2 separate regions of the Homo sapiens genome follow, and region 2 is linked to region 1. Evidence: fine-mapped expression QTL. A gene starts in region 1. The other region holds a variant in brackets. All regions are shown on one strand. Distances are between the middles of the regions.

What was found. PIP is the estimated chance that this variant, and not a neighbour inherited with it, causes the effect. A credible set is the group of variants that fine-mapping cannot tell apart.
Region 2: its variant is the best candidate, but not a certain one, in a credible set for the expression of LPAR6 in anterior cingulate cortex (GTEx, PIP 0.56).

The regions. Positions count from the first base shown.
Region 1 is chr13:48,410,936-48,416,436 of GRCh38, reverse strand. LPAR6 (lysophosphatidic acid receptor 6) reads left to right here and starts at 3,324. Exons shown (of 1, transcript NM_001162498.3): 1 at 3,324-5,299. The coding sequence starts at 4,014. The coding sequence ends at 5,048. All of the region lies in intron 17 of RB1 (RB transcriptional corepressor 1), which reads right to left. RefSeq lists an enhancer at 4,339-4,840.
Region 2 is chr13:48,592,086-48,597,350 of GRCh38, reverse strand. All of the region lies in intron 2 of LOC105370202 (a long non-coding RNA gene), which reads right to left. Among named protein-coding and RNA genes, the nearest start is that of LINC01077, 4.1 kb to the right of the region's middle. The variant G/T (reference allele first, on the strand shown) is at 2,750.

The sequences.
Region 1 (5,501 bases):
AGGGTTGTGAAGATCACGGAAAAGGCATAGAGTCTGGGCCGGAATGCATCGTTCCTCGTGGCACATTCCCTCATGGCTTCCCTTAGCTAGGGGAGGAAGTTCCCTGGCCCCTTGCACTTCCCGTGTAAGGCGATGCCCCACCCTGCTTTGGCTCGCCTTCCATGGGCTGCACCCCCTGTCTGACCAGTCTCAATGAGATGAGCTGGGTACCTCAGTTGGAAATAGAGAAATCACCCACCTTCTGCGTTGATTTCGCTGGGAGCTGCAGACTCCAGCTGTTCCTGTGTTCACCATTTTAACATCTATCTGGCTCTGTTTAATTTTCGCTCCCCCCAAAAAATCCATATAAGAAATAAGTTGATTCTCAGAGTTAAGTTCCAGAAGTGTAGAGATCTCACATTAAAATAACAGTTTGCCTGAGTTTATCAAATACAAAAGTATCTATTAAATATAATTGATTATATGGATTCATTACCTCCCTTTGCAAGTAGTTACTCTGTATTTTTCCAATTCTAACCTAAGAATTTTTCAAAGTTTCTAAATTCCCCTTTGGTTCCTTAATTAGAGGCCAAATTTAATATCTGGAAAAAATGCAGTATTCAATTATCTTCTTCCTGTTCAAACAGTCCCTCTGCTATGGCTCTTCCTCAGTAGAAACAACTGGCAACAAAATTCAAGTTTATGATTCATTCATCAGCAAACATGTGAGAATCATCTACAAAGAACCAAGAATTGTGGTAAGAATTATACAAACATTTACTATGATACTGATAATAATGAAAAGCCTAATTCAACAAATAGTGATCTATCCATTTTTAAGCCCCAGTAACTCAAACATTAAAAAACTATAAATGAACAGGCCGGGCACGGTGGCTCACACATGGAATCCCAGCACTTGGGGAGGCTGAAGTGGGTGGATGACTTGAGGTCAGGAGTTCAAGACCAGCCTGGCCACATGGTAAAACCCTATCTCTACTAAAAATACAAAAATTAGCTGGGTGTGGTGGCGGGTGCCCATAATCCCAGCTACTCGGGAGGCTGAGGTGGGAAAATTGCTGGAACCTGGGAGGCAGAGGTTGCAGTAAGACAAGATCGCACCACTGCACTCCAGCCTGGGCGGCAGAGTGAGAAAAAAAAAAGAAAGAAAGAAAAAGAAAAAGAAAAGAAAAGAAAAAACTATAGATGAATGACTTAAGTGAATAACAAGTCAAGTGAGTAATGACAATATGTAGAAAAATATTCCAAGTAGAATTAATAAATTTTAATTATTTGAATGAGAAAATGCCGCCATATTCAAAATGAAAGTAAAAGTAGGATGAGATCAGCATATACAACTGCATATATTTCATTAATTAAAGATGACTAAAGAGGAGACTATCAATTTGAAAGAAGATTACTAAGATTTTGTTTTTTTAAAACATACTGAACCAAATAAAAAAAAAATAACAGTAAGACATAACTACTAACAGAAAATTTTTTCCAATGAGAATACAAGCTTATTAACCACTCCTTTTTTCATTAATGCTCACTCAGCTTCTACCAGCCTTCTAATAAGAACACACACATACATCTTTTCTATACCAAATGTGATATAAAAGATATTCAACCCTTCAAAATTTTAAGTATTGGTTATAAGTAATACTCATCTTTTTTTGTCATTTGATAATAGATGAATTTTCTAGTCCAGACAGTAGAAATAGATTATAGTTCATCAACAAATGACAAAAATTGCTGAGTGTGAAAGAATGGTGCAAAACAACACAAAACATTTTACTGTAATAAGTTATTTTTAAGCTAGCTAAGTAATTTATGAGAAAAAAATAAATTGTTCTTAAATTACTTAATACCCAAGAGGAAGAGTTTCAGCTTAAACTAGACCAAATTAAAAAAATAATAACAGTAAGGCATAACTAGATCTAGCCTTTTCTGAAGAAAATGATATTTAAAACAAGAAAAACATGTGCCATAGAGGTTGTGATATCCTCAATCTTTGAGGAAATAACACCTACATTTAAGTACCCTCACCTTACACACACTTTCTTCTTCTGATTTTGGAGTCTTTAAAATATAAGTATACTTTTTTTTTTTTTTTTTGAGATAGTCTCGCTGTCGCCCAGGCTGGAGTGCAGTGGCTTGATCTTGGTTCACTGCAACATCTGCCTCCCAGGTTCAAGCGATTCTCCTGCCTCAGTCTCCTGGGTAGCTGGGACTACAGGCACGCACTATTGCCCTAGGCTAGTTTTGTATTTTTGGTAGAGATGGGGTTTCGCCATTTTGGCCAGGCTGCTCTCAAACTCCTGATCTCAGGTGATCCACCTGCCTCGGCCTTCCAAAGTGCTGGGATTATAGGCGTGAGCCACTGCACCTGGCCCAAAATATGAGTATACTTTAAATATAAACATATAAACCATTCATAGAAACTTTTAGATGGAGACAAAATCTGAAATATATTTCAATATATAGTTAATGTCATATTAAGGGGTTAAGGGAAGAGCTGGGAGGAAGAAGGAAGATAAGACTATGAACCTAAAATTTTGCCAAGTAGTAGGATTTTTATTCTCTAAACCTTATTTCAATCAATTTAAGGTTAAAAAAATTTTGCTTAAAAAGATGCAATTTCATTTTGTGCTTAGAAAGTAAAATTAACACCACACCAAAGATAAACATTCTTGAGTTTGTTCTTTTGGAGAAATGAGTAATTTAAAAATTTAAACAGCTCTAAAATATTAATACAACTGCATAGGAAAGAGGAAAGAATGTTAGAAAATTGCTTATCAAAAACTAATGAGACCCAGGATAAGAGCTACTCATAATGATAACAATTAAATATTGAGTATTTTTCAGAAACCAAGAGTCAAATGCTTGTTATACCTTAAAGGTTAAAGGCCCCTGTTTCATAGTCATTAAACAGTTCTTTGAAATGCTATGTTAAGATATCACTAACAATTTCAATTTATAAATACACACCCATACACATTTTCTTTTCTAAATTGTCATATCCCAAACACGAAAACAATCGAATAAGAGAACAGGCTGAATAGTGATTTTTTTCTTTCAATTATTACTACTGAAACAAATCAAAACAACTCTGAGAGGTTGCCAGCACCGCAGAAGGCATTTCCACATAAAAAGAGTTAATGAGCAGACCACGCAGTTCAACAGCCAGTGACCATTTGCAAGCCTCCTAGGTATATTCCCAGCAGACACATTATCAGATTAAAGGAAGTGCAAACAAACTGGGCTGAAAGTTTCTTTGTCCAAACCCAGCCTCTTCTTCCTGTGATGTCATATTACAAATCTAGGAAGCCTTTCTTTTTCACTTCAGAGAAAGCGACCTCAAGATACAACTGGCAACTGAGGAAAAGGCCTCAATTCAACAAGAGCTAACAAGCTTGGGAGTTTATTTCGGAATCTTTAAAAGACTCTTCTGCTTACCCACAATCTGGGATCCACTGCAGGAAAACAAAAAAGGAAAACTTCATTTAAAAGAAGCAAGAAGTAAAATGGGACAAATTGGGAATGTTTAAGTCTCTGAAACTCTGCACTGAAAAGAAAATAAGATTGATAACTTAAGCTTAACATTCTGAGGCATAAAGAAACATTAACTTTGGAGTATTCATCTTGACTACTGAAATACAAGTTTAGAAGACAAGTGGTTTCATTCTGGTCACAGATCACAGCTTTTCTTTAAATTTATAATCCTATGGGTTGGACTCGTTGACTGTATTTTTTAAAGGTTGCTCGTCAGTTAACTGAGCCTTGGAATTCATGGATTTTCTAAAGACTAACAAATGAAAATATTTTCCTGTTGAAGAACCCAGCGGAAATTTTACAGCAACAAATTTCATGTTTCTTTTGGGTATTTCTGAGAAAAAGGAAATATTTATAAAACCATCCAAAGATCCAGATAATTTGCAAATAAATTGGAGGTTATAGAGGTTATAATCTGAATCCCAAAGGAGACTGCAGCTGATGAAAGTGCTTCCAAACTGAAAATTGGACGTGCCTTTACGATGGTAAGCGTTAACAGCTCCCACTGCTTCTATAATGACTCCTTTAAGTACACTTTGTATGGGTGCATGTTCAGCATGGTGTTTGTGCTTGGGTTAATATCCAATTGTGTTGCCATATACATTTTCATCTGCGTCCTCAAAGTCCGAAATGAAACTACAACTTACATGATTAACTTGGCAATGTCAGACTTGCTTTTTGTTTTTACTTTACCCTTCAGGATTTTTTACTTCACAACACGGAATTGGCCATTTGGAGATTTACTTTGTAAGATTTCTGTGATGCTGTTTTATACCAACATGTACGGAAGCATTCTGTTCTTAACCTGTATTAGTGTAGATCGATTTCTGGCAATTGTCTACCCATTTAAGTCAAAGACTCTAAGAACCAAAAGAAATGCAAAGATTGTTTGCACTGGCGTGTGGTTAACTGTGATCGGAGGAAGTGCACCCGCCGTTTTTGTTCAGTCTACCCACTCTCAGGGTAACAATGCCTCAGAAGCCTGCTTTGAAAATTTTCCAGAAGCCACATGGAAAACATATCTCTCAAGGATTGTAATTTTCATCGAAATAGTGGGATTTTTTATTCCTCTAATTTTAAATGTAACTTGTTCTAGTATGGTGCTAAAAACTTTAACCAAACCTGTTACATTAAGTAGAAGCAAAATAAACAAAACTAAGGTTTTAAAAATGATTTTTGTACATTTGATCATATTCTGTTTCTGTTTTGTTCCTTACAATATCAATCTTATTTTATATTCTCTTGTGAGAACACAAACATTTGTTAATTGCTCAGTAGTGGCAGCAGTAAGGACAATGTACCCAATCACTCTCTGTATTGCTGTTTCCAACTGTTGTTTTGACCCTATAGTTTACTACTTTACATCGGACACAATTCAGAATTCAATAAAAATGAAAAACTGGTCTGTCAGGAGAAGTGACTTCAGATTCTCTGAAGTTCATGGTGCAGAGAATTTTATTCAGCATAACCTACAGACCTTAAAAAGTAAGATATTTGACAATGAATCTGCTGCCTGAAATAAAACCATTAGGACTCACTGGGACAGAACTTTCAAGTTCCTTCAACTGTGAAAAGTGTCTTTTTGGACAAACTATTTTTCCACCTCCAAAAGAAATTAACACATGGACATTTTAAAGTCTTTAGTATAAAGAAAATTTGTATTCAATGTGTTAAGCATTAACATGTATTTTATTTGTGTATCCACTCCATCTGATTTTTCTGAGCCATTTTGATTTGTTCCTTCATTAAAAAAAATCTCTTAAAGTTATTTAGTGTCTAAAAGTGACTGACTTAAATTATGTGGTGCCAATCTGTAATGTCTTTGAATTCCTTTTTATATTAAATGATTTAATTTACTAAATTATTTTATACTAATTTATGTTTATGTAATATTTTATTCAACATACCATTTTTATTTTGAATTAAAACTACTAATCATATTTCTTAAACTATGATTAACAAATGAGAAA
Region 2 (5,265 bases), 180 kb before region 1:
GTTGCAGACAGGAAGACACCCTTATGTATGGAGATCTCCTTTATAGACATAAACTTTCCTTACAAAAGGGTAACTTCTACTGTTGTTTTCAGAGATTCTCCTCTGCTGCAGTTTCTCAAAATAATCAGCTCAAAATAATCCTCATGCTAAAGAGGCATATTTGGGGGTGGCATGTTTCTGGTCTCCTAAAGTCATAGGAGAATTCAGGACATGTCCTGAATCCCATCATTTGTCTTAAGTCTTTTACTACTATTTGACATATATATGGCAAATATATATATACATGTTAACGGAAAGGCATCCAGATCCAGACCCCAATAGAGGGTTCTTGGATCCTGAGCAAGAAAGAATTTGGGGCAAGTCCACAGAGTAAAGTGAAAGCAAGTGTATTAAGAAAATAAAGAAATAAGGAAAGGCTACTCCGTAGGCAGAGCAGCCCTGACAGCTACTGGTTGCCCATTTTTATGGTTATTTCCTGATGACATGTTAAACAAGGGGTGGATTATTCATGCCTCCTCTTTTTAGACTATATAGGGTAACTGCCTGATGTTGCCATGGCATTAGTAACTGTCATGGCACTGGTGGGAGGTTAGCAGTGAGGACGACCAGGGGTCACTCTCATCACCATCTTGGTTTTGGTGGGTTTTGGCCGGCTTCTTTACTGCAACCTGTTTTATCAGCTAGGTCTTTATGACCTGTATCTTGTGCCGACCTCCTACCTCATCCTGTGACTTAGAATGCCTAACCTCCTGGGAATTCAGCCCAATAGATCTCAGCCTTATTTTACCCACTCCTATTCAAGATGGAGTTACTCTGGTTCGAATGCTTCTAACACACACACAAGTGTATACACACACATACGTGTGTATTTGTGCTTACATATATGTGTATATGTTTGTATACACATATATCCATACCTTTTCTTGATAAAAGTTAAAAATGAACAAAGAAGGCTAGGGTATGCAATGCATGATAAGGAAATTTTCATCAAAAATAGCTAGTGTCGACAAGCAACCACTTTAGATTTAAGATGCAACCTTCAGCTCTCTGAAAAATGCTCTGACGTGGTCCTCTTCACTCCCACACTGAAGTCAGCATGGCTTACCATACTCACTACACAAATCTCCTTTCAGGCTCCACCTGTTCCATTACCTGAGCAAACAACAGCAAGCAGCAACCCATGCTGCCAACTCACTCTCTGAGGTGAGTTCCAGAACCTACAGGGTGGCATTATCACATTCTTGGGCTGACAGCACTTTTGCCTCCGTGGCTCCCTCTTCATTAAAAAAAAAAAAATTAAAAATTGTATTTGAAACAACTGTATTGGTTTAAAAATTGACATAGTCTAGATTCATTATTAGGTATTCATTAATATTCTATTTTTTCTTCTGATTTTGAAAGTAATTAAAACACTTTCATGGGTCCCTAAAAGTCTCATGGGCTCTAGGCACAGTGCCTGCTCCACCTAATGGGGAAATTGGCCCTGAGAACCTGAGGCAGGAAGAAGGGACAGATCAGCAAAGCACTCTGCCACCCTCTGCAGGTCCTGGTAGAAAAGTATCAAAAGCAAAGAAATAATAAAACCCTACTGGGGCAAAGTCATCCTTACATCAGCTGGTATTTGTTAGGGAGTTGTCAGGTGCAACTTGCAAAAACATCTTGTCAAATGTCCACAGCTTTCCTGTGAGGTGACTCTCACGTCCACAGATATCCAGTGGCCCCAGAGGTTAGGTTTCATGTCTCAGTTCACCCACGCCATTCATGGCAGCCCAGGAATGTGTAACCACTCAGTCTGGCTCTTCCCTGCCTGTCAAGGAGGTGAGGCCGTAGGGTGTGGGGTGGGTGGTACACCTGCTCCCTGTCACCCTCCGAGTCCTCCCTTCCACACCCACACTCTGCCTTGCATGGAAATTAAACATCAGTGACTAATAAATTTGAAGTCAAAATCTAATGTGCTTTTTTTCACTCGCATCCGTGTGAAGAGACCACCAAACAGGCTTTGTGTGAGAAACAAGGCTGTTTATTTCACCTGGGTGCAGGCGGTCTGAGTCTGAAAAGAGAGTCAGCGAAGGGGAGATAAGGGTGGGGCCGTTTTATAAGATTTGGGTAGGTAAAGGAAAATTACAGTCAAAGAAGGGTTGTTCTCTGGCGGGCAGGAGTGGGGGTCACAAGGTGCTCAGTGAGGGAGCTTTTTGAGCCAGGATGAGCCAGGAGAAGGAATTTCACAAGGTAATGTCATCAGTTAAGGCAAGGACCGGCCATTTTCATTTCTTTTGCGGTGGAATGTCATCAGTTAAGTCAGGAACAGGCCATTTTCACTTCTTTTGTGATTCTTCAGTTACTTCAGGCCATCCGGGCATATACGTGCAGGTCACAGGGGATGTGATGGCTTAGCTTGGGCTCAGAGGCCTGACACTTTAACAATTCCATAAATGTGCTTTCCTTTGCCTCTACAAAGATCAGACTTTTTGTGACATTTTCCCCCTTCTGTTTTAGTTCTTTCAGGCTGTGCATTCTGTTTAGTTCATTACAAAAATATCATAAACTGGCTTGTTTATAAACAACAGAAGTTTATTTCCCACGGTTCTGGAGCTGGGAAGTCTAAGATCAGGGTGCCAGCTGATTCAGTGTCTGCTGAGAGACCATTTCCCGGTTCGTAGACGACTGTTTTCTCACTGTGCCCTCACATGGAGGAAGCGGGGAGGGAGCTCTCTGGAGTCTCTTTTATAAGGGTGCTAATCCCATCTGT[G/T]AGGACTCCACCCTCATCACCTAATCACCTCCCAAAGGCCCTACCTCCAAATACCATCACCTTGGGGGTTAGGATTTAAACATATGAATTTTGGGGGGACACATTTAGTCCATCGCATGTTCAAATCTGAAATATTCCTTAGTGGCATCCCTGTGTTCCTGTCCTGTTAGTGTTGTGCTGCTGACCTGGGTGGCAAAGGCTAAGCCTCTGCTCCAGCTGGTCCATTTTGCAAATGCTGTACTGTGAGTATTGCATTTGCACAGTCAGGGTCCCCTTTCCCCTGAAAATTCAAATGAGGCCACAGACAGCTGGCAATTTCAACTCCACCTCATTTTCCCCAGCTCTTACTCATTTCTGTGCCTGAAAGGGACTGAATGGGTGGGGGAAGGTGACAATTTGCATTTATATAGAATCCCAGCTTTAAGTTAATTAATCAAAACACTAAGCTACCCTGACAAATCCTTCAGGGAAAGCAGAAAGCTAAACCCTGCTGCACCTTGTTTGAAATAATGATTCAGGCTGCGGCAAAATCTCACAACAGGCCCCCTGAAGCTCGCGACCTACCACCTGCGGAAAATCTTTCTGCAGGAGGACTTCATTCACTTATCCCGACAAGATGATCTTCCTTTCCACTTTTCCTATCTCACCTCTGTACCCACTCCCCAGGCAAAAACACTCCATAATTAAAGAGAGAAAATATGCTCAAGAGGAACAGAGATGTTTCCTGAAGTAAATAAGAAAAGTAAAACAATCCATGAAGGGCTGGGTTGCACGCCTGCCCTCAGGTGGGTTGAGGCAGAGTGCCAGGCCCCAGGCAGTGGACACACACCAAGCAAGCATGACACTAGCAATCACACCCTTTGGGTTCCTTACGACACACTGTGGGAGGCTGTGAGGAAACCATCGAGGGAAGAACAGGCAGACCTGATGCAGAAATTCGATAAAAGATAGAATTCACCAGGACATTAACATATGCAATGAATATTGGGGTGGGACCCAAACTGTCCCTGGAGTAATTACCTTAGGGGAATAGGATGGAGAAGGAGGTGCAGGCATTCTTCACTTTATATTCTTCTGGAGGTTTGTACGGCTGGCCCTTGAATAACATGGTTTGAATTGCACTTTTATGCAGGTTTTTTCAATAAAAGTTACACTGAGTGTGCTGCCTCTCCTGCCTCTCCTTCCACCTCCTCCACCTCTTCCACTTTTGCCACCCTTGAGACAGCAAGACCAATCCCTCCTTCTCCCCCTCCTCTTCCTCAGCCTGTTCAACGTGAAGAAAAAGATGAAGATCCAGCTTCACTTAATGAAGAGTGAATATACTTTCTCTTCCTCATGATTTTCTTAACACCATTTTCTCTTCTCTAGCTTACAGTTTATAATGCATATAACACCCTATATATGCATTAATCAACTGTTTATGTTATTAGTAAGGACTCTGGTCAGCAGTAGCCTATTAGTAGTTAAGTTTTGGGGGAGTCAAAAATGATACATGGATTTTCAACTGCATGGTGAGGGGGGGGTGGCGGTTAGTGCCCCTAACCTCTGTGTTGTTCAAGGGTCAACTGTACTATTTCTGTTAAACAAAGAGCATGGATTGCTTTTACCACCAAAAAAAGCATTATAAAAAATAAATTATTTTCAGCTACTGCATAAAAGAAATTAAATTACAGCCACAGGAAAACCCCAAGGGGGAAATGATAAGGGCAGAGAAGCTAGAATTAAAGGACCTAAGTTCCTTATTCAGCTTTCTGAGCCTCAGATTCTTTATGCAAAAAACTGAGGAAATTGTAATACTTGCCCACTGTGGTCACCCCAGGACGATTAAATGAGATAATAGGTGGAAAAAAGTGCAGCTTATTTTTCACTTGGTCCTTTAACTTTACACAGTAATGAAGTTTAAATGCTATGGCCCCTGTAAACCAAAAATAAAATTCTAAGCTCCCCAACAGACTGAATGGACCCCTCTGGATTCAGGGGGACCGAAAGAAAACCAGAAAAACTAGTTTAGGCTATGAGGGGAAGACAGGGTGTCAGATGTGTCTCCTTATACTTTCTCCTTTCTGGAATTCCTTTCTGGAATTCAGGCACAATTGACCCGCATTAACATTAAAAGAGAGATCTTATTGCTACCTTGTAGCAATAAGACATCAAATTCCAACCTGACTCTAGTATAACATCACATGACAGATAAAGAAGGAAATCAAAATATTTTACTCCAAAATATGTTTCTTTGCCATATTTTGAAATGGTCCTGCATAGCCATCTTTTATGGGGGTAAATTTGCATCTGTAAAGAATCTCTGTTAACATAGAGTCTTTCCCCTTCCAGGGCCTCCTGATCCTGAAAAGATTAAGAGTCTAGCACCTTTCAAAGGCCTAAATAAGAAACATTTGCCAACTATTGTCTCTAAGAAGTCTCAACTATGAGACTTCACCTATATAATAAGAACCTTGGTCTCCACAACCTCTTATCTTAACCCGGACACTCCTTTCTATTGATTTCAGGTCTTTAGA